Linked DNA regions of Homo sapiens. The protein of the gene in region 1 interacts with the protein of each later gene in a pairwise test. Each region holds a gene or a part of one and is shown in the gene's direction. Other genes may lie near its edges.

What was found.
Region 2: the proteins of SPG7 (region 1) and RBPMS interact in binary tests that used the Homo sapiens proteins (3 or more experiments, as listed by UniProt).
Region 3: the proteins of SPG7 (region 1) and KHDRBS2 interact in binary tests that used the Homo sapiens proteins (3 or more experiments, as listed by UniProt).
Region 4: the proteins of SPG7 (region 1) and PSTPIP1 interact in binary tests that used the Homo sapiens proteins (3 or more experiments, as listed by UniProt).

What each region holds. Positions count from the first base shown.
Region 1 is NC_000016.10:89,524,558-89,532,402, forward strand, and holds part of SPG7 (mitochondrial inner membrane m-AAA protease component paraplegin isoform 1 precursor), read left to right. Parts: intron 1-1,771; coding exon 1,772-1,911; intron 1,912-4,919; coding exon 4,920-5,022; intron 5,023-6,125; coding exon 6,126-6,251; intron 6,252-7,346; coding exon 7,347-7,509; intron 7,510-7,845. UniProt on the Homo sapiens protein: Catalytic component of the m-AAA protease, a protease that plays a key role in proteostasis of inner mitochondrial membrane proteins, and which is essential for axonal and neuron development.
Region 2 is NC_000008.11:30,387,388-30,395,232, forward strand, and holds part of RBPMS (RNA-binding protein with multiple splicing), read left to right. Parts: intron 1-7,845.
Region 3 is NC_000006.12:61,890,717-61,898,561, reverse strand, and holds part of KHDRBS2 (KH domain-containing, RNA-binding, signal transduction-associated protein 2), read left to right. Parts: intron 1-3,728; coding exon 3,729-3,927; intron 3,928-7,845. UniProt on the Homo sapiens protein: RNA-binding protein that plays a role in the regulation of alternative splicing and influences mRNA splice site selection and exon inclusion. Binds both poly(A) and poly(U) homopolymers. Phosphorylation by PTK6 inhibits its RNA-binding ability.
Region 4 is NC_000015.10:76,997,722-77,005,566, forward strand, and holds part of PSTPIP1 (proline-serine-threonine phosphatase-interacting protein 1), read left to right. Parts: intron 1-7,845. UniProt on the Homo sapiens protein: Involved in regulation of the actin cytoskeleton. May regulate WAS actin-bundling activity. Bridges the interaction between ABL1 and PTPN18 leading to ABL1 dephosphorylation.

The sequences.
Region 1 (7,845 bases):
CTCAGCCTCCCGGGTAGCTGGGATTACAGGCGTGCACCACAACGCCTGGCTAATTTTTGTAGTTCTAGTAGAGATGGGGTTTCTCCATGTTGGGCAAGGCTGGTCTCGAACTCCTGACCTCAGGTGATCTGCCCACCTTGACCTCCCAAAGTGCTGGGATTACAGGCGTGAGCCATCGTGCCCAGCCAGATCTGGTAACTTTAGATTCCAAGAGTGCGTCAGAACATGTGCTTGGAGCAATTTAACCCAGGGTAATGTGTGGACCAGTGATTAGGAAAGTGGTCTGGGGTTGGTGTGGCCCACCCCCGGGTCTGGAAATGACCGTGGCCTCCACCAGAGCTTCTGCCCCTTTGCTGGGTTACTCAGGATTCAGAATGCTTTTTCCTTTTCTTTTGCTTTTTTTTTTTTTTTTTGGAGACAGAGTCTCCCTCTGTCTCATCCAGGCTGAGATGCAGGGGTGTGTGTGATGTCGGCTCACTGCAGCCTTGATCTCCTGGGCTCAGGTGATCTACCCACCTCAGCCTCCCCTGTAGCTGGGATGGCAGGCGCGCACCACCACACTTGGCTAATTTTTAAATTTTTTGTTTTTTTGGAGAGATGAGGTCTCACTATATTGCCCAGGCTGGTCTTGAACTCCTGGCCTCAAGTGATCCTTACACCTTGGCCTTCCAAAGTGCCAGATCACAGGCGTCAGCCACCACGCCTGGCGCTGTCTTGCTATTTTTAAAAACAGGAAACCTTGTTCTTAAAATACACCATGGCTAAGTGCAGAAGACGGTGCTCATTCACGTAAATCCTCTGGTGGATGCCTGATTATTTCAGTCTGGAAGGTTATTTTAACCTACAACACTATGCTCAGCTCTAGACGAGTCACCTGATAAAACAGCTGCCTTAAAGAGAAAATGCTCAGAATTCTGTCTTAGCAGTTTGGGGTGTGAGTGAGGGAGCAGCAGGTGCCATCCCCACCCCTCATCCCTGTCCTCTGCTGGAGTTTCCAGTTAACCTCAAAGAGAGTCCCGCAAGTCCGTCTGTGTCCTCCCTTTGGGGTGTTGCCGTCCAGTCATGCTGAAATCTGAGCTAAACATGCGGAGTTTACTTAGGAAAACGCTGCGTTTGGAGAATCGTGTGCCAGGGAGACGGACCTGTTGGTGTCCTGGTGTGAGGGATGAACAGTCTCAGGTTTTGTGGTTAAACATGAACCCTCTGTGGCCGCAGTTTCCTAAAACATCTGTTTTTGGCCGTAGTCTTGATTTTGCCATCCTCAGTCCCGTGCTGCAGCCTCGCCGGCCTCTGGGGGGCTCCTGCTGTGTCTGCAGGTGTAGCTGAGTCTGAGGCACACATCAGACGTGGGGCTGTGAGCTAACTTGCAGACATCCCTCCATTTCTTAGTTTTCCTATGAGTGGAAAATAGAAAGTCTATCTGTTGAAATTTTATTTCTCAAATTGTGGTTGAGGAAACAAATTTTTTAGACTTGGAAGTACAGATGTTCCTTGAATTAGGATATTTTCAGCTTCCCAGGGGCTCACTGGGAGGTAGCCCCATCGTAGGTCAAGGAGCTTAGTGTGCATATTGCTTTTACACCATTGTAAAATGGAAAGACCGTAAGTGGAACCGTCGTACGTTAGGAATCACCTCTAGTTTCTGAATGGTGTCCTCTTCACAATGCTGAGGTTGTCATTACCATGAGTTCCAGGCGGGCTCTCTGTTGACTGTAGGGTTGCTCGTCTGTCCCTGCGTTTCTCATGGTCCCCTCTCCTTTCTGCCCCCCAGCGGCTAGCCTTGATGTACCGAATGCAGGTTGCAAATATTGACAAGTTTGAAGAGAAGCTTCGAGCAGCTGAAGATGAGCTGAATATCGAGGCCAAGGACAGGATCCCAGTTTCCTACAAGCGAACAGGATTCTTTGGAAAGTATGTTGGATGTATTTGTTGATGCTTGAACTAAACCTAACTTGGCTTTGTAATCTGAGAAACAGATTGCAATCAAAAATCTCAAACTGTCTTTGCCTATAGTTAACTAGACTTTTTAGTGGGAGGGTTAAATAAATATAGAAGTGAATGATACAATGCCAGGAGATTTGGAAATATAGTTATCCCTGGGTATCCATGGGGGCTGGTTCTCGGACTTCCCAAGGATACCAGCACCTGAGGATGCCTAAGCCCCTGGTGTAGGATGCTGAAGTCTAAGCCCCTGATGTAGATGCCGAAGTCTCAGCCCCCGACGTAAGATGCCGAAGTCTCAGCCCCCGACGTAGGATGGCGAAGTCTCAGCCCCCGACGTAGGATGCCGAAGTCTCAGCCCCCGACGTAGGATGCCGAAGTCTCAGCCCCCGACGTAGGATGCCGAAGTCTCAGCCCCCGACGTAGGATGGCGAAGTCTCAGCCCCCGACGTAGGATGGCGAAGTCTCAGCCCCCGACGTAGGATGGCGAAGTCTCAGCCCCTGGTGTAAAATGCCGAAATCTTTGTGTGTAACCTAAGAACATTCTCTGATATGCTTTAAATCATCTGTAGGTTGATAATAATACCCAATACCCTGTAAATACTATTTCAATCGTTGTTATACTTTAGGGAATAATGACAAAAATGTGTCTGTGCATGTTGAGTATAGATGCACGTTTTTCCCCAGATACATTCATTCTGTGCTTGGTTAAACCTGCAGAGATGAAACCTGTGGCTGTGGAGGCCAACCGTGTGCAAGTCCGTTGGAGTTTGTTTAGTCACTTTCTTTAGTTGTGTGGCGCTTCTGAATTCACATTCTTGTATAATTTTCACTGACTGTGCTCTTTGATGAAAGCTTCCCAAATGGTCAGAGTGAGTGTGCAGATGCCGGAGATACCTAGTGATCTGGCCAGCCTTGTGACAATAACAACGTTCAGCTTTTTCTATTTTCAGTATATTTTGTTTTCAAAAGTAAGCGATCACTTTCAGTTAGCAAGGCAAGATCAGCCTAGCAGTAAGAAAGAAAGTCAAGGAGGACCGTGATAATGTCCTGGGCTTGCTCTCTTCTACAGACAGGAAAATGGAACGGGAAAAGGGTAGACACAGGAAGGTGAAATTCTCATTTCAGTGTTGAGAGGGAAACAGACCAGGTGGGAGCTGTCAGCACGTATGGACCATGGACCCTGACAGGTTCCTTAGTAGGACAAATGAGGGGCCAGCGGGTACTGAAACAGAGGTTTATTGTTGACTTGTAATCTCTGAAGATGTAGAATGCCAGTGACTGGCAAGTACTCCCTTGATCAAAATGTACCTCTAGCCGGGTGCAGTGGCTATGCCTGTAATCCCAGCACTTTGGAAGGCTGAGGCAGGGAGGATCTCTTGAGCCCACAAGTTCGAGACCAGTCTGGGCAGCATGGAGAACCCCATCTCTACAGAAAAAAAAAAAAGATGCACCTTTAATTCTATAACCCAGCAACACCTGGAAGATCACTGCTCTGAGGCTGTGTGTCTCATGTCTTTGTAGGCCAGTGATGTACAGAAGATGGAGGGTTGGGGCAGGCCCATTCTCGTGTCTTCGTAGGCCGATGATGGACAGAAGGTGGAGGTTTGGGCCGGGCGCGGTGGCTCACGCCTGTAATTCCAGCACTTTGGGAGGCCGAGGCGGGCAGATCACGAGGTCAGGAGGTCGAGACCATCCTGGCTAACACGACGAAACCCCGTCTCTACTAAAAATACAAAAAAAATTAGCCGGGTGCGGTGGCGGGTGCCTGTAGTCCCAGCTACTCGGGAGGCTGAGGCAGGAGGATGGCGTGAACCCGGGAGGCGGAGCTTACAGTGAGCCAAGATAGCACCACTGCAGTCTGGCCTGGGTGACAGAGCCAGACTCCATCTCAAACAAAAAAAAAAAAAAAAGAAGAAGATGGAGGTTTGGGGCAGGCCCATTCTCATGTCTTCGTAGGCCGATGATGTACAGAACAGAAGATGGAGGGTTGGGGCAGGCCCATTCTCGTGTCTTTGTAGGCTGATGATGTACAGAAGATGGAGGGTTGGGGCAGGCCCAGGGCAGCCCCTCCTCAGGATGAGGGCAAAAGTCCTGGGATTTGCTTTTTTTTTTTTTTTTTTTTGGAGTCAGGGTCTCACTCTGTCGCCCAGGCTGGAGTGCAGTGGTGCAATCTCAGCTTACTGCAGCCTCGACCTCCCAGGATCAGTGATTCTCCCACCTCAGCCTCCTGAGTAGCTGGGACTACAGATGCACACCACCACATCCAGCTAAGTTTTTTTGTATTTTTAGTAGACACAGGGTTTATTCTTACATTTTTCTTTTCTTTTTGAGATGGAGTCTTGCTCTGTAGCTCAGGCTGGAGTTCAGTGGCACGATCTTGACTCACTGCAGCCTTCACCTCCTAGGTTCAAGCATTTCTCCTGCCTCAGCCTCCCAAGTAGCTGGGATTGCAGACGCATGCCACCATGTCCAGCTAATTTTTGTATTTTTTTAGTAGATATGGGGTTTTACCATGTTGGCCAGGCTGGTCTCAAACTCCTGACCTTGTGATTCACCCGCCACGGCCTCCCAAAGTGCTAGGATTACAGGCGTGAGCCACCGCGCCCGGCCTGAGATTTGCTTTTTACTCTTAGGCTGATCTTGCCTGCCTGATTGAAGCTGATCGCTTACATTTGAAAACAAAATATACTGAAAATAGAAAAACCTGAACGTTGTTATTGTCACAAGGCTGGCTAGATCTCCGGCATCTGCACACTCAGTCTGACCATTTGGGAAGCTTTCATGAAAAAGCACAGTCAGCGAGAATGAGACGAGAGAACCCATTTCCACAACCATTTTAATCTGCGCATCGGTCCCAGACGTAGGGATTCCTCGTCTCATCTTGGAAACATTGCCAGCAGTGGTTCTGATTTGGAAGCCTGCGTCTGTCACGTGACACCGTCTGAGCCTGTGCCTGCCTCTCTTTCTTCCGGCAGTGCCCTGTACTCTGTGGGGATGACGGCAGTGGGCCTGGCCATCCTGTGGTATGTTTTCCGTCTGGCCGGGATGACTGGAAGGGAAGGTGGATTCAGTGCTTTTGTAAGTTCTGTAAATCAGAGCTCTCTGAACTCTTTCTGGTTTGTGTTTGCTGAATACTTTTCCCATAAGCTATACGATGAATACACAGGGAAAACCTGTTGCAGAGAGTAGCCTGAAGCCACAATTAGACAGCAGCTCACCTTCCTTTCCCATGGTCCGGCTGTAAGGCGTGTAGTAACCAATGTTGCCTGAGGGCCTCTCACCCCTAACTCTGGGGTGCCTGAGCCTTGTGAGATTACAGGGCAGTTGAATCTGCGTTTTTCTTTTCTTTTTTTTTGAGACGGAGTTTCGCCCTTCTTGCCCAGGCTGGAGTGCAGCCGTGCGATCTCAGCTCACCGCAACTTGCACCTCCCGCATTCAAGCAATTCTCCTGCCTCAGCTTCCCGAGTAGCTGGGATTACAGGCACGCGCCACCACGTCCAGCTAATTTTGTATTTTTGGTAGAGACGGGGTTTCTCCATGTTGTTCAGGCTGGTCTCGAACTCCCGACCTCAGGTGATCCTCCCGCCTCAGCCTCCCAAAGTGCTGGGATTATAGGCATGAGCCACTGCACCTGGCCTTTCTTTTTTGTGTGTGTGTGTGTGTGACAGAGTCTGGCTCTGTTGCCCAGGCTGGAGTGCAGTGGTGCGATCTCAGCTCACTGCAACCTCTGCCTCCTGGGTTCAAGCGATTCTCCTGCTTCAGCCTTCCAAGTAGCTGTGACTACAGGTGCCTGCCACCACACCCAGCTAATTTTTTTGTATTTTTGGTAGAGACAGGTTTCACCGTGTTAGCCAGGGTGGTCTCGATCTCTTGACCTCGTGATCCGCCCATCTCGGCCTCCCAAAGTGCTAGGATTACAGGCGTGAGCCACCATGCCTGGCTGAGTAATTTTTTTTAAAGCAAATTGCTAGATAAGTTTCTTACTAATTAATGACGAAACATTTCCCTTCTGTGCTTGAAGACTGACTGTGAGCCTCGTCAGCCTGACATGAGTGAAGCCTTGGGATCCTAGGATGGAGACGTGGGGTTGGGGCGGCTCAGGTGCGTGGGCTGAGCGCTGGCATCGTGCTGCTGATTTCCTGACTTCGCCCAGCTCCTTGCACTTTGTTCTTTCTGCACAGAATCAGCTTAAAATGGCTCGTTTCACCATTGTGGATGGGAAGATGGGGAAAGGAGTCAGCTTCAAAGACGTGGCAGGAATGCACGAAGCCAAACTGGAAGTCCGCGAGTTTGTGGATTATCTGAAGGTGAAAGCAGCGTGGGCCGGGAGGGAGGTGTGAGCAGAGGCCGGCCGTCCTCCTCTCCCAGAAGGGCTCCTGCGGGACCTGGAATTCCATCGATGACGTGTCGTGGGTTGGCGGTGACCTCTACCATGTCCCATGGGGACACCAAGCAGGTGCTGGTGCCTGTTCAACCAGCAGCACAAGCCTCGTGCACATGGTTCAGCCAAGCAGAGGCTGCCAAGACCCATGCCTACTGTGCCGTTAGCCGTCCTGGGCCCTTCATCCCTTGCAAAGCTCTGTGCTTTTTCCAGAACCACATAAACACCTTAGCCAGTTGGTGGCAGTGCATGAGCTGCCTATCACGTGCGTCACTTACACGTTTCCTCCGCGGGCCTGGTACGGTGGGTCGCACCTGTAGTCCTGGCACCTCGAGGGGCTGACATGTGTTCCCTCTGCAGGCCTGGTACAGTGGGTCACGCCTGTAGTCCTGGCACCTCGGGGCGCTGAGGCAGGGGAGTGACTGAGCCCAGGAGTAGGAGATCAGCCTGGGCAACAGTGAGACCCTGTCTCTGCAAAACATTTTTTTATTTAATTAATTTTTTTTTTCGAGACAGAGTCTCACTTTGTCACTCAGGCTGGAGTGCAGTGGCACAATCTCGGCTCACTACAACCTCCACCTCCCCAGTTCAAGTGATTCTCCTGCCTCAGCCTCCCGAGTAGCAGGGATCACAGGCGCCCACCACCATGCACGGCTAATTTTTGTATTTTTAGTAGAGACGGGGTTTTTCCATGTTGGCCAGGCTGGTCTCAAACTCCTGATCTCAAGCTACGCGCCTGCCTCAGCCTCCCAAAATGTTGGAATTCCAGGTGTGAGCCACCGCACCTGGCCTGCAAGAAGTTTTTAAAAGTAGCTGGGCGTGGTGCCACATGCCTGTATATTCCCAGCTACTCGAGAGGCTGAGGTGAGAGGGTGGCTTGAACCCAGGAGTTTGAGGCTGCAGTGAGCTATCATGGCACCCACTGCACTCCAGCCTGCGTGACCCAGAGAGACCTTACCTCTAAAAAACAAAAAAACGGAATCCCCAAGTAGTTAGTGTTGCATTGTCTGCTGCCGTCCAGAGCCCAGAACGCTTCCTCCAGCTTGGCGCCAAGGTCCCAAAGGGCGCACTGCTGCTCGGCCCCCCCGGCTGTGGGAAGACGCTGCTGGCCAAGGCGGTGGCCACGGAGGCTCAGGTGCCCTTCCTGGCGATGGCCGGCCCAGAGTTCGTGGAGGTCATTGGAGGTAGGTGCTGTGGTTGGGGGCTGTGGGTGGGCTTGGCTGACTACCTGGCTCCTTTCACACATCCTTCCTCTGGTGTCTGGACTGAAAGGGACACGGGTGGGTGGGGGAGTAGAGAAGGAAAGCGAGGTCTGGGTTGGCGGAGGGGTTTTGTCTGCGAAGCACATGATGTTTGCTTCAAAGCCACCGTCACTTGTGGCCTGGGGGGCCAGCACGGTGCGTGTGAACCCTGAGGGGTGGCCAGGGGCCCCCGCGAGCAGCTGCCGTGTGTCTGTTTGTAGGGAATGGAGCTGGTAGCTTTAGTTGTCCTTGGTGTAGAACTTTGTCTGGCCCGGGTAC
Region 2 (7,845 bases), on another chromosome or scaffold:
TTTTTGTTTTTTTCTTTCTAACCCTGAAAGCCACAGGTAAAATAAATAGAGTATTAGGTGAGTGCCATTAATGTGCCCGGCATTACACAAAACCACTGCACTGACCCTTTCCCTGCCCACCCATTGTATCAGCAACTTGCTCTTAAGCACATTTAAAAACCTTGGCGGTGGACTCCAGTAAACAGAACACACACATACAACATAGATATATACACGTAATGACGAGAGGAAAAATGTGTTTCGTTGTAATTTCTGGTAGCCATTGAACTGACATGGAAAAATGAGTCCAATCATCATTAAGGGAAAATAGTTTATTTCACAGATCATGAGGGTGGTTTGGGCTTTCTCCACATTGTAGAACCCAAGTTTGTTTTTTTCTGTGTTTCTAGTTTCGAAACGAATTCCTTCTATCAATCAGTGTATTTTAGCTTCTTTTGAGAGTTTCTAATGCTTACCCTGAAATAATTGTGCTGAAATGCCTCTTTGGTTCTAATTGTGTAGAATGAACAGTTCAGGATCTAGGAGTATTTTTGCAGCTTTTTAGGGTTGGAAGTTTTTGAGAACTTTGGCAGAACATGTATTAATACTTCTACTTTGGATAGCATTGAAAACTTTGAGGAAAAATAATTTAGGATTTGGCTAGCCAGTTGTGTAAGAGAGATGATACATTTAACTTTCCGATTTTTAATGTATTATTACATTAAATACATGTGTAATACACGTACAATGTATTATACATGTGTGTTCCCTAAGCAAGTTGTCCTGTAAAGACTAACCAGTTGTCAAAATCTCACTGAGATTTTTAAGGTTTGTTTATATATGTTTAGAGTATCATGTCATTTCTTATATTTTACAATTGATAAAATGATTCCTAGAATTTCTCTAATTGTGCAATCAAACTTTATAAAAATTGATATATAATAGATCCATAATTATTTGTCTTACCTAATCAGTTATAATTGATGAGTTTAAAGTATTTTCAAATATATCAAGACCTTTTCTGTCTTATAGCTTATAACTTATAGCTATAGCTATAAGCTAACTTATAACTTATAGCTATAGCTATAAGCTAACTTATAACTTATAGCTATAGCTATAAGCTAACTTATAACTTATAGCTATAGCTATAAGCTAACTTATAACTTATAGCTATAGCTATAAGCTAACTTATAACTTATAGCTATAGCTATAAGCTAACTTATAACTTATAGCTATAGCTATAAGCTAACTTATAACTTATAGCTATAGCTATAAAGCTAACTTATAGCTTGTAACTTATTTGTTGGTCACTGAATTTTCAAAATAGAAATTTAGATTAAATATGTGATTTGGTTTTTATTTCTACTTTTATCCATGTCATTGAGTACTTTTCAGGCTGATTGTAAAACATCTTTAAAAGGCCTTTTATTATATTGAAGCACTGGTGTTAATTTCTCCTTAAATTGCTTTGAATTGACTTGTACTTATAATAAAACTAAAAAAGCAAAAAACGTGGAAGTGTTGGAATATTGATCAAAAAGATGTGCAGAAATCATACAGTCAGTTCTTCTGAGGTTAATACAAACCTTTACTTTGCATTCCTTCTTTTAAAGTGCTAATTTTGCCAAAATATTGGGGTTGTAAAGAAAATTATTTCTTAAAATTGCTGCAGAGAGGGTAATGTCAGTTTGATGTGGCAACCTCAAATTTTCATTGAGCATTAAAGTCAATCTACATTGTGACTTCAGGAAAGTACAGAATGGTTTTATACAATTTAACCAAGATTGGGGATCTCTGTTATTCCAAGTTCAATCCAATGCAATAAACATATATTTCAGTTGTAGAATAGGATTTGGTGACAACTGATGCTCCATGACCCCTGTCAATATGGCATGCACTTTTGAGTTATTTTTCCAGTAGCGGTTTAAACATTTCCCTGATAAACCCTTGTGTGCATCTGCAGTCTTCTTCATTCCCAGTGGCATTAGTTTTCAGATGGGTAGTTTGGAAGGGGTGGAAGTTCTCTTCTGGAGATGGTTTCACATGATTTTCGTAGGTTCATGTTAATTTTTGCTTTAAGGATAAAAGTGTTCAGTGCTGGTGACAAGGCAATAAAGTGGGTACTTTTGTGCAGAGCAGTGGTGATGTAAATTAGTGTAGCTTTTCAGAAAGGAGTGACACTATCAAAATGTGTTCAGGCCCTTTGATTTAGTACCTTTATTTTTAGAAATTTACCCTAAGAAAACGGTATCATAAAGATTTATATATAGGAATGATTTTTGCAGTGACTTATGACAGTGACAATTCAGAGGCACTCTATCTAACATGGGAAACTGCTAACTAAATCATTGTATAATTCTGGAAGGGGAATATTGTGCAACCACTAAAGGCTCCGTTTTTAAAGAGAAAAATACATGGATTATAAAATATGTATTATATATAAATTCATATTTATTATGTATTATACATATGTGGTTATATACTATTCTCTGTGTTCTGGAGGTTAGAAACCTGAAGTCAAGGTGTTGGCAGGGCCACCGTGCTCTCTAAAGGCTGGAGAGGAGAACCTGTCCTTACCTCTTTGAGCTTCAGTGGCTCCAGACATTCTGAAGACTATATTTTTATTCTCATGTTGTAATATTAAATGAAAAGAACTGATTTTAAAGTTTTATGCTATGTGATGCCAGTTCTCAAATAAATGTATATTCATTCATAAAACCAAACATTAATTGTATCTAATTGGTGGATTACAGATCATTGCTATTTACTTTCTGATGCCTTTCGGTGTTTAAGTTTTCGAAAATGACCATGTGAACAAAAAGAATTAAATGTCTTTTTGCTTTGAGGGTTTCCTTGAATCGTGATATTCACAAAACCGAGGTTGGTCACATTTAGTTTTGCTCACAAGCCTAGCGGTGAGAATCAGGTCTGCCTTGTTCCTCAGACATAGTCTTTCTTAGTACTATTAGTATTTCTCTTACTCATTCCCTTATCTTGATTGTGTTAGTGATCTTCAGCTGCTCTCCTGTTCTGATGCTCTTCTGGAGTCCATCCTTACACCATACTGCTGGGCCCTCCAATGCCCCGAATCCTTCAGTGCTACTTGGTACTCCACAAAGTCAAGTGCGCACATGGCGTTCGGGATTGCCCTCACCTACCTGTATACTGTGATCCCTTTGCTAAGAGGAAGCCTAGGTCTTCCTCTTCTGTTCTCTTGATCTAGTCTGAGCTGCTTTTAAGCCAGGATTCAAGTTTTTCAGCCTACATTTTTGCAAGATCCCCCTCACCTGAATGTCCCATCCCATAGAGATGATTTTTCATTAGAATTTCAGTAAAAGTTACTTTCTGTTATGTCCATTTAACTCCTGGTTATTATTTTTTTCAGCTATTTATTTTGTATGGGTCTATGCCATTTTACAGTATTCCCAATGTTCAACACCTACCCCAGCACCAGGTAAATCTCCTCTGCACACATCCACACTTACATATATACACGTATATAATTCTTTGTAAATATATATGAAATAGCCTTATTGGTGAGGTTGGTGATTATGAGTTTGTACAGGTAATAAGAAGCAGCCACTCGTTTAATATTGAGGATCCCTTCTGTGCTCTGCACTGGGGAATTAGAAAAGGTGTGGATGGATCGGCTGGAAAATTACTTCCATCCCTTTGTCATTAGGAACCTCCATTTGCGAGCACAGGTGAGCCTGCCTGGTCCATCAAATAGCCACTGCTGGAAAATTACTTCCATCCCTTTGTCATTAGGAACCTCCATTTGCGAGCACAGGTGAGCCTGCCTGGTCCATCAGATAGCCACTGTCAGTGTGGGACTGCTTGTCCCAAGGTGCATTTGGGTTTTCACCATTAGAATTTGGTTTCTGCTGTGGAATTCCATTTGACCTTTTGGACGAGGGCTTCCAGAAGCCTTGGTTAGGTGGAAGAGCATGGACTCCCTGTGTTCCCAAACAAGCCTGCTCTGTGTGACAGCCACTTTGGAATGTTTGTGTTCAGTTTCATTTGGCACCTTAGTGTCTGCCTGGGGGTAGGGGAAAGGGAATGCAAATGTTCCTCTTGAACAGTGCTTGCTTTGGTCAAAGAAAAAAACTTAGGAAGGAATGAGGAGAATGAACCTTAAAAGCTGGTGCAGAAGTGGCTGCATAGCTCAGTGGGCTTGAGGCCATCTGGGACCAGGTATTTAAAATGGATGCTATGTTGGTATGAACAAGTCAGTTCCATGCCCCTGGTGGGGATGAGCTTATTTGTCATATGGGGATAACTCCTCACACTCACATCCCTAAAGTGTACCAGGAGAATATTGTAAACAATTTTATTGCACTATATTTTCTATGTTTGGCGGTGGAGGTGGGAGGTCCTTGATATTATCTGAAACATGAAGCTGAGTAAAGGGGATATGTCTGTGGTATCAGAAGAAAGCTGCTTGGCTTGTCAGTGTTGCTGATAGCAGGAAAAAGGAAATACTGAAATCTTTAGCCTGCAGAATTGTCAGAAATCTTTTTATCTATTCATTAAATAATTATCTCCTAACTTTTATTGAGTATTTACTATGTGCCAAGCTGATGAAGGGATTATGATGATTGTGCTGCTTTGATGGGGAAGTGGCTGAAGCCCTGAAAAGCTATGGAGCCAGGGTCTTCATGTGCAGATTCTAGAGATGCCAAGATCTGAGAGAGGCAGTTCCTGTCTTAAAGTTGCTCACAGTTTAATGGTGATGCCCCTGTATGAACAAACAGGTATAACCACGCCCGAGGTTAAAGTAGAGGTAGTTGAGTTGAGCACAGCCAAACCTGCAAGGAAGGGATGGAGCTGTGTCACAGAAAGCTTTAAAGAAGTTTAAAGAGTCAGTTCTTTAAAGATGACGTATGAGCTAAATCTCAGTTAAGATTTTGACTGATGAGAAAAGGGTTCAGACAGTGGGGAAAAGATGGGCTAGGCAAGGAAATCGCTCTGTGAATGAACACACAGAGGCTTCAAAAGACCCTTTTGGGGAAGAGCAAGCAAGGCATGGCAGGAGAGAAGAAGGGGAAGGAAGAATGAAACTGGGGAGGGGGCACTGGCCCACAGTGGGTGGAAGAGCTGCCTCTGCATTAGGGAATTGGACTTTGTCCTCTGATGGGGCACCAGGGTGGATGTGCCCCAGAAGGCAGCAATCTAGGACGTCCCAATGGGCAGGGGGATGTGGCGAATTTTGGAAAAGTTGTTGAGAACCATTCTTGCAGTGAGGTTTCTGCTGCAAGAGTCCTGGTCTCAAAGTGAGGCAGCAGCCTGGCAGTGGCAACTGAGGCAGAGATGCCAGGTGTTCAGGGCCTAGATAACTGTCAGATGTGCGGGAGAGAAGGCAAGGAGACAGCCTAGCAGCCTTTTGGGTTTCTCCTTCGGGTGGCTAGCTAAGTGACGGTTGTATTTGTAGGAATAGAAAATAGAGATGTGGAAAGGGTAAGAAAAGAAGGTACCTAGGAGATGAAGATGTTACTGAGTCTGGGGTGCAGAGGAGAGGTCTGATCTTGAAATACGATTTTCAGAACAATTCAAGAACATAGAGCTGATAATTGAAAGCGTGCATACTGGGAGTGAGTGCCCAGAAAATGGAATTCCTGCTTTCTAGGAAACGTTGTGAGGGTTAGCAAGGAAAGAGATACAAAATTTAGTGAAAATTTAGAGTCATGTTAAAAAGTGTTTGGGAAGGGGAGAGAATTGAAAATAATCAAGAAAAATGGAAACTTAAAAATTAATTTAGGAACATAAAAATGTATTACATATAATCTGCCTGTTTTTAAAGGGTTTGGTATACTTAGCCATTGGAAAGCCTGAGGGGGAGCTTAGAAAAATCTGATATATGGTCTTTCTCATATGCTTTTTTTTTTGCTTTGCTCAAAACTCAGGAACCTGTTTATAAACCTCCCAAACTTGCCATTAATTCCCAGGCTTTTACTTCTCCAACTCTCCATTTGCCAACCCTGCACCTAAAAGGAAAGATCAAGCTACCATAAAATCTGGAGAGGCGTGAGTTTTTTTACAGGAAAAAATTTCTAAGTTGCTTTTATCTTTTTTGACTTTTTTGGGGAAAAGGAAGAGTAGGATGAGCCTTTGGCCAGCAGCCCAAAGACATCTAATCTGTGGGTTATATTTTCATTTTCTTTTTTTTTTTTCTTTGAGACGGAGTCTTGCGCTGTCACTCAGCCTGGAGTGCAGTGGCGCCATCTCACTGCAACCTCCACTGCCTGGGTTCAAGCAATTCTGCTGCCTCAGCCTCCCAAGTAGCTGGGACTACAGGCACACGCCACCACACCTGGCTAATTTTTGTATTTTTAGTAGAGACAGGGGTTTCACCATATTGGTCAGGTTGGTCTCAAACTCTTGACCTCAGGTGATCCACCCGCCTCGGCCTGCCAAAGTGCTGGGATTACAGGCATGAGCCACCATGCCTGGCCATATTTTCATTTTATTCAATTTATACTTTAAAAGTTTGCTGCCTTTTTCAGCCCAGCTAAGTGTCAGCTCAAAGTAGTCCAGGAACTTAAAAAGAAAACAACTTGCATTTGTATTTCTCTTAGGTTTTAACTCTACTGCACCTATTATGGTGACGGTGCATATTGTGTAAATGCTAAAGAGAAAAAGGAAATGGCAGTGATAAATGCCAGTCACACCGAGAAGATGGATTCACATTCCAGGTTGTAATACAGTATTGTTACACAAATTTAAAATGCAAAGGGAATGCTTAGCCAGTTCCATTCTGTCAGCCTTTAGGGTTTTGCAAAGGTAGGAGACATCTGAGAATCTCCAAAATGAGGTCTGGCTCACCAACCTCTGCAAATAAGTTATAGGACAACTTTACTTTTAATTAACTTTTATTTCTCATGAGTTGATTTTTTTGTGACGTTCCTCTTGATTTTCCCAGATTCTCATGTCACCAGGGTAGATAGGCTGGCAGTGGCCAATGTTGTTCTAAGAGAAATCCTAAAGACTACCCAATTTTTTTTTTTCTTGAATCCGCAGGATCCTGTTTTGTGAAAATTCCTCTTACGCCCACCTATAGGATAGACAGTGGAGGCCCCCCCTGGGAGAAAGTGTACACAGAAAGTGCTATCTAATTACAGAAGTAGCAGAATTTCCTTTGTGCTCAGAGGGGAAGTGCTACAAAAGTGTAATTACTTTACCCAGCATGTGTGATTTACGGGACTTAAAATGTGTGAGTTTCCAAAGAGTCATCTGTTTTTAAATACAGTATCCCTCCCAGCCAGGCAGGATGTGTTTGGGGAGGTGGGAGTGAGGACATGTACTTCCGTCCTGTGCCTGCTGCAGGATGCCTGGTGACAGGGGACTGAAACCACTGGTACTTGCTGCCCCTCAGGGTCTTGCTTATCTGAGTAGAAGGAAGAAAATCAGCAAAGGGCTGGAATCTAGTCAGCTACTCCCAGACCAGATCATCCACTGCTCTCCTCTTACCTTCCCAAGCCAAATTCTTTTTCTAGGACCTCCAAGACTTTTCCCAGTAATAAGCAAAAGAATTGTTAGAGTGAACCCTGAGACCGTTTTTAAAATTTATTTATCTTTCTTTCTTTCTTTTTCTTTTTCTTTTTTTTTTTTTTACCTGTTTTTATTTGAGATGGAGTCTTGTGGTGTTGCCCAGGCTGGTCTTAAAACTCCTGGGTTCAAGCGATCCTCCCGCCTCGGCCTCCCAAAGTGCTGGAATTATAGACGAGACCATTTTTATTGCACAAATTTTCTTTTCAATCTTACTTTTCCTAATATGCTTAAGAAAATCAGTGGGAGAATTGAAGATCAGGTGCAGTGGCTGGGCCAGGTGGCTCACACTTAGCACTTCATGAGGCTAGCACTTTAGGA
Region 3 (7,845 bases), on another chromosome or scaffold:
GTCATAATTTAACTCAGTGTTTTCTCTCATAGTGTTAAGATAAAATAATTGTGTATCTCATAATGAATGAGATAAACAATAAGTTAAAATGTTGACCTTGGATATGTTATGTAATTATATGTTACAATTTAATTAATACAATAATCACTTAGAGACTTACAATAAAACATTAAATGTATTACATGTAAAGACATTTACAACTGTATCGGATATTTAGTAAGTGCTCGATACTATATATTTGTTATTGCTTGAAAATTAAAGATTGGTCATACCAAATGCCCACAAAAAAAAAGAAAATAGCTTTACAAAATAGAAAATCTTATTAATAAGAGAACTTTGCATAACATGAGTTAACAATTCCTAATTTGAATTGTTATGAAATTATTACTTTATGAAGTTATTTAATTACACTTATATTCAAAAAGATGATGTCTAGAATATTTTAAGCTCTATAATTTGTTGAAAGTGTATTTAATTAAAACAATTTACATTTCAATAATCCTATCTATGATAACTCTAATTTTCCAATAATAATGTATACCAGAGAACAAAGCATTACATCTATATATTGTAATAATAATTTATTTTGCATAATTGATGAATGAAAATATATGACATCTCTAACACACATCACCACTATATGTTGCAGTGAGTGCAGTCACTGAAAAACGAAACATCGGGGTAAATTTTGAAGGCTTTTGTTTACCACGTTGAGAACGAATACATAGAACTAATAGAGTTTGTTAAAGAGGAGAGTAGTCATATTTGTTTATGCGAAAGACTACTCAATTATCACTGTGGTTGATGCAGAAGAGTTACAGTGATTGAGAGAGAGAGAGAGAGAGAGAGACAGAGACAGAGAAACCGTCTTATGGCAGGGGAGCCAATGAGAAAACAATTCCATCATCCAAGGCAGATAAAAATGAGCAGCATTTGGAATAGACAGGGATAGGGCCAGATTAGAGATTAACATTTATATGAATTAATGCCAATTAAACGTTGGAGAAGAAGAGTTCCCCAAGAGAAAGATAAATTTTTGGTGTCTAGCCTGGTGAGAAATTGATGATATCATTAACTAAGAGTAGGTGAAGGATCAAATTAAATGAAGAATATAATTATTCTTGTAAATAATCTGAGCTCTGTGGATTGCTGGTGTGACCTTGGGCAGGTGACTTGTTCTCTCCATGCCTTAATATCTCAATGTATTTTTAAAAAACTTAGAACTGCCCACATGACAAGCTTGTCAAGATGCTTAAATTGGAGTATTCATTTAAGGCAGTGGTTCCCAAATTGGCCTGTATTTTGGAATCACTGGGAGCTCCCTGTCTCCAGAGATTGTGGTTTAATTGGCCTAGGGTATGGCCTGGAATTTGGAATTTTCAAAAGATCCTCAAGTAACTTTAACATGCAGGCAAGTTAAGAAACTTCTGATATAAGGAACACAAGCCAAGATATGGCATTATGTTAGGAAGAAAACAGATTATAGCCATCATCAGAGGTAGGGATTGCAGGGTGCAACCATGAGATCGAGGATAGAAACTGGGGACATCCAGATTCCAAAGTGGGTCCAGGAATACAAGCCAGTGAAGGAGGATAACGAATAAGGAGGAATGAGGAAAAGTAGAGAAAAGCAGAGTCATAAAAGTCCAAAGAAACATTTTCCAGATAATAGTCCACAATCTTAAAAATAGTAGAAAGGTGCTGTGGCATGGAGACTGTAAAGAAATCTAGTGGATTTGGAAATCAGTAGGCTACTGGTGATCTCAGCCAAGAGCATTTTCAACAGAGGGGTGAAAGCAAGAACTAGACTGATAACATTCAGTTCAGGAATGTAGAGGAAGTAAAGAATTAAACAGAAAATATTCTTTCAGCAAGTCAGACAAATAAACGACAGGATACTGTGGTGTGGTTTTAGCCAGGGGCAGTATCCTAAAAAAAGTGATTTGAATTAAATTGGAGGAGAGAACAATGAGGTTAATATTCCAGGGAAAGAACATAGTGGATAAGAGGTAATGAGTCAGGTTCAGGAGGCAGGTTTGCTAGGGCTGTGTCTGGTAGTCAGTTGATGAAGGAAGAAAATGGAAAATTAGATTTGATATGAGCATCATATAATATTAGAGCAGAAGGAAGTACTATAAATTTAGAAATCTGCATTTTACTCATTAGAAAAAAAAATATCTATCTTAAGCCTAGGTAGTTATAATACTTACCCATGACTATTCAAGGGTATAGCGAAGGCTCGTGAATAGAGTAGGGTGACCATATAATTTATTGCCCACACATGGATATTTTTGAGAGTGTTAAAATGCTAAACTGAACAGGAAGCTAGGACAACAGTTATAAAACCTGGACATATGCTCATCTTGCTTATGAGGAAACAGAAATGTGCTTGGAGGAGCAGTGAAGGCAAAATTGGTTTTTACATCCCTTTATGTATTATCATGGTAATACAGAATACTGTATTCTTAGCCATGTTGTACTTGCAGCCAGCACTGGGCCTCTGGGTCTTTGTGTTTCACCTTCTCCCAATCTAGGAGAGTATTCTTTATACATTAGACTCACAATAAATTCTCTCATCATTTCTCTATTCATCAGCTCTGTAATCTATTTAAAAATTTTAAAGGTTTTGCCAGCATTCGTACCCTTCACTTATAAATGCTCACTTTTATTTTAAGCAAGAAAGAGCCATCTGACTGCTATTCATAGCAGACAGCATAACCTATGTCCCCATATGTGCCTACAGCCAAATACTGTGATTGTTGACATCTCAATGATCATCATTTTTTTCCCCAAAGCTTTAGTGTTCCCACTGAAAGCAGTGCTATCTAGAGGCCAACCTTTCAGACAAAATAAAAAGTGAAATAACTGTTCTTTTGCCCAAAGACTTCAGACAAACACTCAACCATTCTAAAGGCTTCAAAATGCCATAAAAATTGGCCACAACCATTTGATCTTACACTTTTAGTGCAAGTCAATTTTGTATCAAGAACTGCAATACAGAGTATTCAGTCTGTTATTTTTATTACAGATACTAAAGTATTCCTCTAACACCATAGTTATGGTTAAGAAAATATATTCTGTCAGGGACTGCACCAGTTCAGGGGGTTACAGGCATGATGATAAATCAGTGACAAAGAGTTGTGATTTCAAGTAATCTCAAACTTAAGCAGCTATAGTAAACAGAATGATATCACTATGGTTAGATTCCCACATTTTATTTAAGTGCAGCCACCTTTTTTTTTGGTAAATGACAGCATTGTCCATCACTATCTGTAATCCCCAGCATAAAGGAGATGCAGACATCTGAAACCGCTCAGTTTCAGAGATGGTCCAGTGAGTCATATATCAGACGATGCTCTGATTTGTGTCTTCTTCGAGAATTTGGAATTTAATGGGGTTATATTCAGAGTGGGTTTTTGTTTGGGTTTTTTTTTTTTTTCTGGCTTTGGGTTTTTAGTTATATAAAAGACAATAACAAAGTATTTTACATGGTTTTTATAAGAACTAATCATAGTCAGTGTTTACAATTATTGTCTTCTATAGATATCAACACACTTTATATCTTATATAATTTCTATTAAATGCATACACACACACACACACAGAGAGAGAGAGAGAAATTTGTATTTATTTCATTGTATGGAGGCTGTGAGATGAAAACTTTTTCTGTGATAGGCCCTTTTCTCTCATCACCTGTTTCTCATCTATACATGACTTGTTTCTCTTAGGGGCCGTGGGGGTGCCATTCCTCCTCCCCCACCACCTGGACGAGGTGTTCTCACCCCTCGGGGAAGCACTGTAACCCGTGGAGCGCTTCCAGTGCCACCTGTAGCAAGAGGTGTCCCTACCCCTCGAGCCCGGGGGGCACCAACAGTGCCAGGATACAGGGCACCTCCTCCTCCAGCCCATGAAGCTTATGAAGAATATGTAAGTACTCTTAAGAAATAAGTTGTAAGGATGAGTTAAATTGATTAGTTAACAAGCTACGTCTCAAACTGTTCATATACCGTGAATATAGCAGGTAATGTTTGTTGCAGAAACGAATGTCATTTACAACAGAATTTAAGCAGTGCATTTAAATGAGAGCATTTTGAGAAAAGGTTTCATTTTACAGGTGTCATCACTGTTAGTGCTAGTTAAAGAGCTTGTATTTTAAGAACCAAACTTATCCTTAGGAAGTTTGATCAGATTTCAAATGAGAAATAATTATAAACAAAAGGTGAATTGCCATGTATTCAGAGATTTCTGGAACTTGACAAAGATTAGCATAAAACTCAGAAATATTTAACAAATATAATATGATTATATTATAAACTTTGGGAGTATTGTAAGACCGTGTGGCTGGTCTTTCATTTATATATCCTGACTCTTTCTTTCACCATATTAAAGATGTGGATTGGCATAAAAAATTCAAAAAAATATACAATGAATAGACAAAATGCAGTGTTTCCAAGCATCCCCCTCCCTTCCTATCTACTGTATCTTTTGGTCATCTTATGTATCTAAACATCTTTTAACCTTTAGTTCTGATTGTCAGTATTCCACTAATTACATTGTGGTCCTTGTGTCCATTTCTCCGACTAGATTGTGAAATATGTAAAAAGGGAAAATTTACTAATAGTGTAACAATAGGAAGTCTTCTGTAAATGTTTTTTTTTTTATTATTATACTTTAAGTTTTAGGGTACATGTGCACAACGTGCAGGTTTGTTACATATGTTTACATATGCCATGTTGGTGTGCTGCACCCATTAACTCATCATTTACATTAGGTATATCTCCTAATGCTATCCCTCCCCGCTCCCCTCACCCCACAACAGGCCCCAGTGTGTGATGTTCCCCTTCCTGTGTCCATGTGTTCCCATTGTTCAATTCCCACCTATGAGTGAGAACATGCGGTGTTTGGTTTTTTGTCTTTGCGATAGTTTGCTGAGAATGATGGTTTCCAGCTTCATCCATGTCCCTACAAAGGACATGAACTCATCATTTTTTATGGCTGCATAGTATTCCATGGTGTATATGTGCCACGTTTTCTTAATCCAGTCTATCATTGTTGGACATTTGGGTTGGTTCCAAGTCTTTGCTATTGTGAATAGTGTCGCAATAAACATACGTGTGCATGTGTCTTTATAGCAGCATACTTTATAACCCTTTGGGTATATACCCAGTAATGGGATGGCTGGGTCAAATGGTATTTCTAGTTCTAGATCCCTGAGGAATGGCCACACCAACTTCCACAATGGTTGAACTAGTTTACAGTCGCACCAACAGTGTAAAAGTGTTCCTACTTCTCCACATCCTCTCCAGCACCTGTTGTTTCCTGACTTTTTAATGATTGCCATTCTAACTGGTGTGAGATGGTATCTCATTGTGGTTTTGATTTGCGTTTCCTTGATGGCCAATGATGATGAGCATTTTTTCATGTGTCTTTTGGCTGCATAAATGTCTTCTTTTGAGAAGTGTCTGTTCATATCCTTTGCCCACTTGTTGATGGGGTTGTTTTTTTCTTGTAAATTTGTTGGAGTTCATTGTAGATTCTGGATATTAGCCCTTAGTCAGATGAGTAGGTTGTGAAAATTTTCTCCCATTCTGTCAGTTGCCTGTTCACTCTGATGGTAGTTTCTTTTGCTGTGCAGAAGCTCTTTAGTTTAATTAGGTCCCATTTGTCAATTTTGGCTTTTGTTGCCATTGCTTTTGGTGTTTTAGACATGAAGTCCTTGCCCATGCCTATGTCCTGAATGGTAATGCCTAGGTTTTCTTCTAGGGTTTTTATGGTATTAGGTCTAACATTTAAGTCTTTAATCCATCTCGAATTAATTTTTGTATAAGGTGTAAGGAAGGGATCCAGTTTCAGCTTTCTACATATGGCTAGCGAGTTTTCCCAGCACCATTTATTAAATAGGGAATCCTTTCCCCATTGCTTGTTTTTCTCAGGTTTGTCAAAGATCAGATAGTTGTAGATATGTGGCATTATTTCTTAGGACTCTGTTCTGTTCCATTGGTCTGTATCTCTGTTTTGGTACCAGTACCATGCTGTTTTGGTTACTGTAGCCTTGTAGTATAGTTTGAAGTCAGGTAGCATGATGCATCCAGCTTTGTTCTTTTGGCTTAGGATTGACTTGGCAATGCAGGCTCTTTTTTGGTTCCATATGAACTTTAAAGTAGTTTTTTCCAATTCTGTGAATAAAGTCATTGGTAGCTTGATGGGGATGGCATTGAATCTATAAATTACCTTGGACAGTATGGCCATTTTCATGATATTGAGTCTTCCTACCCATGAGCATGGAATGTTCTTCCATTTGTTTGTATCCTCTTTTATTTCATTGAGCAGTGGTTTGTAGTTCTCCTTGAAGAGGTCCTTCACATCCCTTGTAAGTTGGATTCCTAGGTATTTTATTCTCTTTGAAGCAATTGTGAATGGGAGTTCACTCATGATTTGGCTCTCTGTTTGTCTGTTATTGGTGTATACGAATGCTTGTGATTTTTGCACATTGATTTTGTATCTTGAGACTTTGCTGAAGTTGCTTATTAGCTTAAGGAGATTTTGGACTGAGACAATGGGGTTTTCTAGATATACAATCATGTCATCTGCAAACAGGGACAATTTGACTTCCTTTTTTCATGATTGAATACCCTTTATTTCCTTCTCCTTCCTGACTGCCCTGGCCAGAACTTCCAACACTATGTTGAATAGGAGTGGTGAGAGAGGGCATCCCTGTCTTGTGCCAGTTTTCAAAGGGAATACTTCCAGTTTTTGCCCATTCAGTATGATATTGGCTGTGGTTTTGTCATAGACAGGTCTTATTATTTTGAGATATATCCCATCAATACCTAATTTATTGAGAGTTTTTAGCGTAAAGTGTTGTTGAATTTTGTCACAGGCCTTTTCTGCAACTATTGAGATAATCATGTGGTTTTTGTCGTTGGTTCTGTTTATATGCTGGGTTATGTTTATTGATTTGCTTATGTTGAACCAGTCTTGCATCCCAAAAACAGTCCAGGACCAGACAGATTCACAGCCGAATTTTACCAGAGGTACAAGGAGGAGCTGGTACCATTCCTTCTGAAACTATTCCAGTCAGTAGAAAAAGAGGGAATCCTTCCTAACTCATTTTATGAGGCCAGCATCATCCTGATACCAAAGCCTGGCAGAGACACAACAAAAAAAGAGAATTTTAGACCAATATCCCTGATGAACATCGATGCAAAAATCCTCAGTAAAATACTGGCAAATGGAATCCAGCAGCACATCAAAAAGCTTATCCACCATGGTCTTCTGTAAATATTAAATTTAACTGATGCAAGCCAGATCATTGTACTATGAAAATGATTTATTTTGCCTTTAACCTCTCCAGCATGTCCATCTCCTGATCTAGGTATTTGTTTCATTCAACTATCCATAAACATGCTGTCCTCTTCAATGTCTTATGTAAATTATTGCTCATTTAAATGTAAACTCTTCAAATATAGTTACTGTCACATACTGGGCACTCAAAACATATGGACTGGTTAATAATCAAAATTTAACTATAAAATAAAGTAAACATAGTTTATAGCTAATCCTAAGAGTATATTAATTTTTAGCATGTATTCCTTTTAGGAATAATGTTACTAAGTGTAAAAATCCACTTCTACTTGAACAGGTGAAATGTGTTCATCTAAGTATCTTCACTACATCAACTATCAATATTTAAAACCTTAGACAATCTTAAAATTGCAAAACCAGAAACAGAAATCATATTCTACTCTGCAAACAAACCCACAAGGTTCAAAAAAAACTCAGGGACTAGCCCTGGTTCTGCCATTTCTTGCCAGAGACATAGTATGTGAAAAATAAGGACTTGTT
Region 4 (7,845 bases), on another chromosome or scaffold:
TTATCTCCCAGAGGGGTAAGAAAATCAGACAAGGTGGCTAGAACAATATTCTGAAGCTTCATTTGTAGACAAATCTGTAAAACAGAAAAGGCACACTACTCTGGCCACAGGTGTTATATTAGGAACAGCCCAGCCAGCTTGGCCCATGTCTGGGCCTTCCCCCACCCCAGCCCAAGGCACTGTCATTAAACCCTTCAGCCTGCCAGCACACTGTTTAGAAATGACTGGTTTTTAGGCGGGGTGCAGTGGTTCACGCCTGTAATCCCAGCACTCTGGGAGGCCAAGGTGGATGGATCACTTGAGGTCAGGAGTTCAAGACCAGCCTGGCCAACATGGTGAAACCCTGTCTCTACTAAAAATACAAAAATTAGCCAGGCGTGATGGCATGCTCCTGTAATCCCAGCTACTTGGGAGGCTGAGGCAGGAGAACAGCTTGAACCCAAGAGGCAGAGGTTGCAGTGAGCTGAGATTGTGCCACTGTACTCTAGCCTGGGTGACAGAGCTGACAGAGTGGAGGGACCCTACTTTGGCTAAACTGGAAAGATCATGTTTGATATCACAGCCCCTCAGTTATTGGGCAACCTCACCCATACAGAACACGGGGCGGAGGAGGGGAGCCAGCCCTGCTGTTTCTGGCTTTAGCTCACAGTAAGGGAGGAAGCAAAAGTGGTTTCTCAGGAGCCAAAGATGATTTCCCTAAGAGCTTTCCTTAAAGCTCATATACTACACTCCTAGGAGATGTCCCCTAGCTTTTACTCAGGTCCTATGAACTCTAATTTCACCCACAATTTTAATGAGCTTGGTCATGGGGTCTTTTAGCCTATAGATGTAGCAATTAGTGGCAGTCTGCACAGTACCTGATATACAGTTGGCGATGGATAAATGCTGATGGACCTGGACTACGAAAGGACGTTTCACAGGCAGCTAGCAGCCTGATTGCAAGGAAGGAGACAGAAACAGTCTGAAAAGCAGCTGTAGTGGCACAGAAGTAGTGGGGACACTCAGCATGGGAGCAGACACAGTCCTGTCCCTCAGTCGGCCTGTTTTTGCAATTTTGTCAGTGTGGCCACACAGTATTTATTTATAGCCTGATTTTAGCTGCAGCCGAGTGTTCAGATGCACGCTGCTGTAGGAGTGAGGCAGGGCGGACCAGCCACAGAGGGAGGGAAGGGATAATGTGATTTCTGTGATACACACAGATGATAAAGAGCATCACACCTTGGCAGGAAGTTTGTAAATGAGCCTCAGAGTGGGACCTGTCAGTGAGACAAGGTTGAATCTGAGAATACCAGCTGTCTGAGCGGAGAGGGCACTGGCCTAGCACTGAGTCTAAGGCGCTGGGAAGCCCAGAGAAGGAAGGGTCCTCCCCCTGCCCCCAGTTTGTCGTGGCTCCACTCCCAGCAGGTGGCCAAATTATTGCAAGAAATGTCTGTCTGTATCCTCTGCACAGGGCTGACAAGTGGGGTACTGGCTGAGGACGTGTTCATAGAATAAATGAATGGACAGTGAATGTCTCCATGGTCCATCTCCCTTCCTGAACCCATTTTTTACTTCATTTCACTTTTTTTTTTTTTTGAGAAAGAATCTTACTCTGTCACCCAGGCTGGAGGGCAGTGGCACAATCTCAGCTCACTGCAACCTCCGCCTCCTGGGGTCAGGTGATTCTCCTGTCTCAGCCTCCCGAGTAGCTGGGATTACAGACGTGCGCCGCCACGTCTGTCTAATTTTTGTATTTTTAGTACAGATGAGATTTCACCATGTTGGCCTGGCTGGTCTCGAACTCCTGACCTCAGATGATCCACCCGCCTCAGCCTTCCAAAGTGCTGGGATTACAGGCGTGAGCCGCCGCGCCCAGCACTACATTTCACTTTTGTTATATTCTGCAAATATTTGGTGAGTAGGGCTGTCTACTAGGTGGTCCACGCTGGACCCCTGAGCTTCTTCACCCTGCAACATCTAATCAGATGAATGAAACTGTCTTGACCTGAAGGAAGCCATAGTTCAGTGCCGGGGCTGGAGGAATAACTGGGTCAGGCAAGGAGTGCTCTGAGAGGAGCAGTATCTCAACTGTGCCATCCTCTCCCAGGTCCCCCATCCCCCGCAACCTGTATGTCTATCCAATGGCCTTTGCAAAGATGTCATTAGATATTGTTTTAAGAGGGAAAATCTAGTTCTGGACCAGATTCTATTGAGATCCACATCCTATTCCTTTTAGGGTAGTTAAAAGGAAAAGTAAGGACCTGGGGAGGCTGGGTCACATGCACTGCAGTGACTGTCACCCACCCTTTGGGTGGGAACCACCAAGGGGGTATGGGGACAATAGGCCTGAACTTTCCCCTTGACATGTGGGTGTATCTCTCCTTTGAGGCTGGGCTCTGGCTCTATCTAGAAACCCCTGTGCCACACTGGGAGGAGCTGAGCCTCCCCAAGCCCATTTAACAGGTGACAGCACCGCTGCCGAGTGGGGCAGTGACTCACCAGCTTCACACAGTGGGACCAGCTGGGCTGGTCTGCCCCTTCCCTATGTGGCACTCAGCCACTGGTGCCTTTTCCCTTCCCAGTTCTGAGATGCTGAGGTGCCCATTTATGAGGCTACAGAGAAGGGGACTGAGGGGCCCTACTCTGATCTGTCATAAAGCTGCCTGTCCCTACCCCCAGACCTGTCTACCATGGCCCAGGGGCATCAGGAGAGCCTGACATTTGCTGGGCACCTGTTCCATCCTGGGCATTTAAAGAGAGATATATATATATATATACACACACACACACACACACACACACATACACACACACACTTTCTAAAGAAACAAAATCAACTAATATAAGATCCTAAAAGGAAAGTGGGGAAATGGAGAAAAATAGGAAAAGAAGAAGCACCTTTAGTCTCATCACACAACTGCTAATATTATGCTGTGTTTGCATAAGATTGCCTTACATAGGTGCAAGCATATTGTGTACATAATTTTGTATTTTCCCTTTCTTTTACAAATTTTTTATTTTTGCAGAGATGAGGTCTCCCTGTGTTGCCCAGGCTGGTCTCAAACTCTTGGGCTCAAGCAATCCTCCTGCCTTGGCTTCCAGAGTGCTGGGATTACAGGCGTGAGCCACCATGCACGGCCCTCCCTCCTTTTTTTTTCTAGTATTTTAAATTTTATTTTAAATTGTAGCGAAATACACATAAAATGTACCATCTTAACCATTTTTGTGGTGTATGGTTCAGTAGCGCTAGGTTTGTTCACACTTTGCCACCCTCCCCTTTTTTTAGCGTAACTCACTCCATCGGGAACACCTGTGGGTGTGGACATGGGTTCCTCATTTTCAGCAACACCACTGTTCATGGCTGCACAGTTCTCTAGCTTGTGAATTTGGTGACCATGCTGTGATTTTTTTTGCCCAGTCCTCCACTGCTGAACATTTAGGTTACTGCCAATTATTTATTATTCTGGACAGTGACACCATGGGTAGATCTTTGACTATAAAGGTTTTTCACTTGGGGATTATTTCTTTGGGCAGAGGAGGCTAATGGCTATTTTCCAGGGAAGGAGGCATTTCTGGGTGAAAGAGTGGGGCCAGTTCTCCAGCCATGGGTACTAGCAGTCACTTTGGGATCCCCCATAGTCCTCTGGTTGGGCAGGAGCTTTTTCACACAGGAAGGAGGGACCCCAGAATGGCCTGGAAGGGTCAGGGCCTGTGGATGGGGCCCTGCTGGAAACCAGAGCCTGCACTGACTTTGTGGAAGGCCTTGCAGCCCAGCAAACTGCTGTGGCTTTGAGGGCCAAGGAGGCCAGTGGCTGAGGAGTGGCCCTGGTGCACTCAGAGCTTGCAGACAGTGCAGGAGGTGGGAGAGAGAGGCCCTGGCCATCCTGCCTTTGCTGCCACCAAGTACCTTCCCGGCACCTGCCTGGCTGCATCTGTCAGAAGCAGTGAGGACGGAGGCTCTCCCTTTCCTGATTGGGAAAGCTCTTTAAGACCTGGTGTTCCCTGTAAAAAGCAGAGAGCCTGGCAGTGCACCTGGTCGGCAACCCGTTGTGAAAAGTGGGGAAATAAGCATTTATACTGGCGCAGGCTTGTAGTATTAACAACAAAAATCTGTGGACGGATGCACAGGGAGCTAATTAAAGTGGTTGCCTGTTGGGAGAATGAGAGAAAGGAGATGGATGAGGGATGAGGCTGAGCGGCTGTGAACGTTTTCAGGATTGATGTTTTTATACTGTTTGATTTTTGAACCATATGAATGTATTAATTATTCAAAAATTAAATCAAACAATTAAAAATGAAAAAGAGGACATTTATTTCAAGTCCCATGAAGAATTTTTCCCTGAATCCCAGCTACTTACATCATCCCCTGAGGAGCAGCAATGCTGCCATTTGCTGAGTGCCTGTTCCATGCCAGGCATGCTGCCATTCAGTCCACATGCCCCCAAACGCATTGTCAGTGTCTTCCTGACTCTGTGATGGGACCTAAGGCACGGCAGGTCTAGGCCCAGACGAGGGTCACCTGTGCAGGGTAGAGCAGGGACTCCCACCTAGGTCTGTCGAACTCTATTGCCCTCTGCCCTGAATTCTAGAGAGTTTGTTCTTGCTTCTACTTTAATTTGTGTAGGATGAAAGGATGCTTCCCTACATGTTAACACTGGTGTCTATGGATTTGGAAGTAGGATTCTCTCCATCCCCCATCTAATTTTCTGCAAGTCAATACAGAGTACCTTTGTCATTAAAAAGAAAATATTTAAAAAGAAAACTAAGCAATTCCTGCTTTCAAGAATGAGTTGGTGTTTCTAGGCCAAATTTGTGGTTTGCTAGCATGCCCTTTTCCACATGCTCGGTGCATATTTTGTGGTACGTGGGCCTCTGGGGACCAAGAACTTCGTTCATCTGTGCCCATTCCACAGGACGTGGCCGGCTGCTCAGGTGTTAGAAGATTGCAGAGGTTTGTGGTCATGCTTGCTTTGCTTTTGCGATGCCTGCAGATGGTCACTGCCAGGATTTGCTGGCTGCAGGGTTCTGGGTCGATTTGGTGTTCTGAATTCAATTTTATTCTTGATAAAAAACAAGATCTGCTTCTTGATGACCCACTTTGTGCTCCAGTCCCCTGGAACCCACATGCTTTTCCTGGCTGCTCCTGACATCTACACAGAACTAGGGCAGCCCCTGGGATGGAGAAGGAGGGCCTTGCTTTGGGCTTTGAAGGGTGGGTGAGGATTTGAGACATGTCAGGAGGACAAACGGCACTCAAGGTGGGAGGTACGGCATGGGCAAAGGTGTGGAAGGGGGTTTGGAAGACAGTTTTCTGGCCCAGAGCATTGTGCAAGGTGACTGGTAGGAAGGGAAGGCACGAGCTGGATTGTGAAAGGTCTCTGCCCTAAGTGGTGGCAGAGATACTTTCTTCTGCCTCTCTGCACCCTCTCTGGTGGTGGCTGTTTCCTCTCATGCAAAAGAGGACAGAGGCTGCGGGCTGTGAGTGGGATGCCCTTCCTCCTCACCCAGAGCCTGGCTGACGCTGCAAACCACATGATGGAGGGAACTTTGGGTGGAAACCAAGACTGCCTCTGCTTCCAGCTAGAGAGCATGATGCCCTGGGCCCTGGGCTGCCCACACCAGGACTCTCCTCTGGGTTGGCTCTGGAAGGTTCCTCCCTCACAGACTCAGTCATGCTCCATCCTCCAGGCTTAGAAGGAAATCGGCTTCTTGGGAGGCCGAGGCGGGTGGATCATCTGAGGTCAGGGGTTCGAGACCAGCCTGGCCACCATGGTGAAACCCTGTCTCTACTAAAACTACAAAAAAATTAGCGGGGCATGGTGGCGCATGCCTGTAATCCCAGCTACTCAGGAGGCTGAGGCAGGAGAATCGCTTGAACCCAGGAGGTGGAGGTTGCAGTGAGCTGAGGTTTCACAATTGCACTCCAGCCTGGGCAAAAGAACGAAACTCCGTCTCAAAAAAAAAAAAAGAAGAAGAAGGAAGCGGGCTTCTTTGAAGCCTCACCCAACCCTCACCCACACTTGCTAGGTGGCCTTGGAGAATCATTTTCCCTTTCTGAACCTCAGTTTCCTCATCTGCAGGATGTCAGGGTCGTCATCACTTAAGATAAGGGCTTTGAGGTTGGGGCGGCTCAGGGCAGTGCTAAGGGACCACCTCCTGCTCACCACAGTGGAGTAGCAGACCAGGAACAGTTCCCAGGGGACCCAGATTTATAATTGGATATGCACCCATAGGGTGAGCCTTATACATAGATCTTGCTGTTTCAGAATGCCTCCTCCAATCATGTTCACCATTGCATGTTATACTCCACCATTAGAGAATCATTCCTTTGGTTTCAAGTAACAAGATGATCTATGTTATCTCACTTAATTCCAACAATAGTCCTGTGAGGTCAGTATTCTTATTCCTGTTTTACAGAGAGGAAACTGAGCCTCTTGGAAGGAATGTGGGCCTGGGGGATGCCACACAGATGGATCGGACTGGGCTGGGCCTGGATGCCACCTTCCCAGGTCTGGGTCAGAGAGCCCTTTGCAGTTAATGGGAGGGTGTGTTGGTTTGCTGAGGCCTGGCACACTGAGCAATGGGTGATGGAACAGGCAGGAGAGCGACAGCTCCTTCCACTGGTGTTGACAGGCCACCCACCATTGGGCAACAGGAAGTGCCAGCTGGAGCCCTGGAGACCAGCAGCCAGTGTGGGGATGTGGTGGCCAGATGGAACTCAGGGCTTCCCAGCTGTGGAAACAGGAACGGGAAACAGCCACACTGGGGAGGAAGTCAGGGGGTGATGGGCTGAGGCAAGAGCATGCCTGCGTGGCTAGAGAGAGTGACCAAGGTGGAGAGTAGTTGGAGATAAGGTAAGAAATAGAACAGTGGCCAGGCGTGGTGGCTCACACCTGTAATCCCAGCACTTTGGGAGGCTGAGGTGGGAAGATCACTTGAACCCAGGAGTTCAAGACCAGTCTGGGCAACATGGTGAAACCACTTCTTAAAAAAAAAAAAAAGTACAAAAATTAGCTGTACCTGGTGGTGCACACCTGTAGTCTCAGCTACTTGGGAAGCTGGAGTGGAAGGGTCACTTGAGCCCAGGAGTTGGAAACTGTAGTGACTGTATGATCGCACCACTGCACTCCAGCCTGGGCAACAGAGCAAGACTGTCTCAAAACAAACAAACAAACAAACAAAAAAAACAAAGAAAGAAAAGAGAAGCAGAGAGCCAGATCTTGTAGGACTGTCATTCTAAAAAATCCCAATGCCCAGGCCACACCCCAGGTCAATTACACCCCGATTTCTGAGGGTAGGACCTGGACATCAGTATTTTTCAAAGTTCCCCAGTGCCTCCATGTGGAACTTTAGCTTGAGAGGCATCAACATAGATAATTGTGGTAATTAATTACCATTGCTGGCCAAGCATGGTGGCTCATGCCTATAATCCCAGCAGTTTGGGAGGCCAAGGTGGGCAGATCACCTGAGGTCGGGAGTTCAAGACCAGCCTGGCCAACATGGTGAAACCCTGTCTCTACTAAAAATACAAAAAATGTAGCCAGGTATGGTGGTGCATGCCTGTAATCCCAGCTACTTGAGAGGCAGAGGCAGGAGAATTGCTTGAACCTGGGAGGCAGAGGTTGCAGTGAGCCAAGATTGTGCCACTGCACTCCAGCCTGGGCAACAAGAGCAAACACTCAATATCAAAACAAAACAAAACAAAAATTACCATTGCTGACAATAGGCATACATCTGGTTTTTACCATTTTCCTGACCTCATTTGACTCACCTGAGTGAGCAGAGGTTAGAAGTTTTGGGGGTGGTGGTAATTATATGTAACATAAAATTGACCATTTTAACAATTTTTAAGTATATGATTCAGAG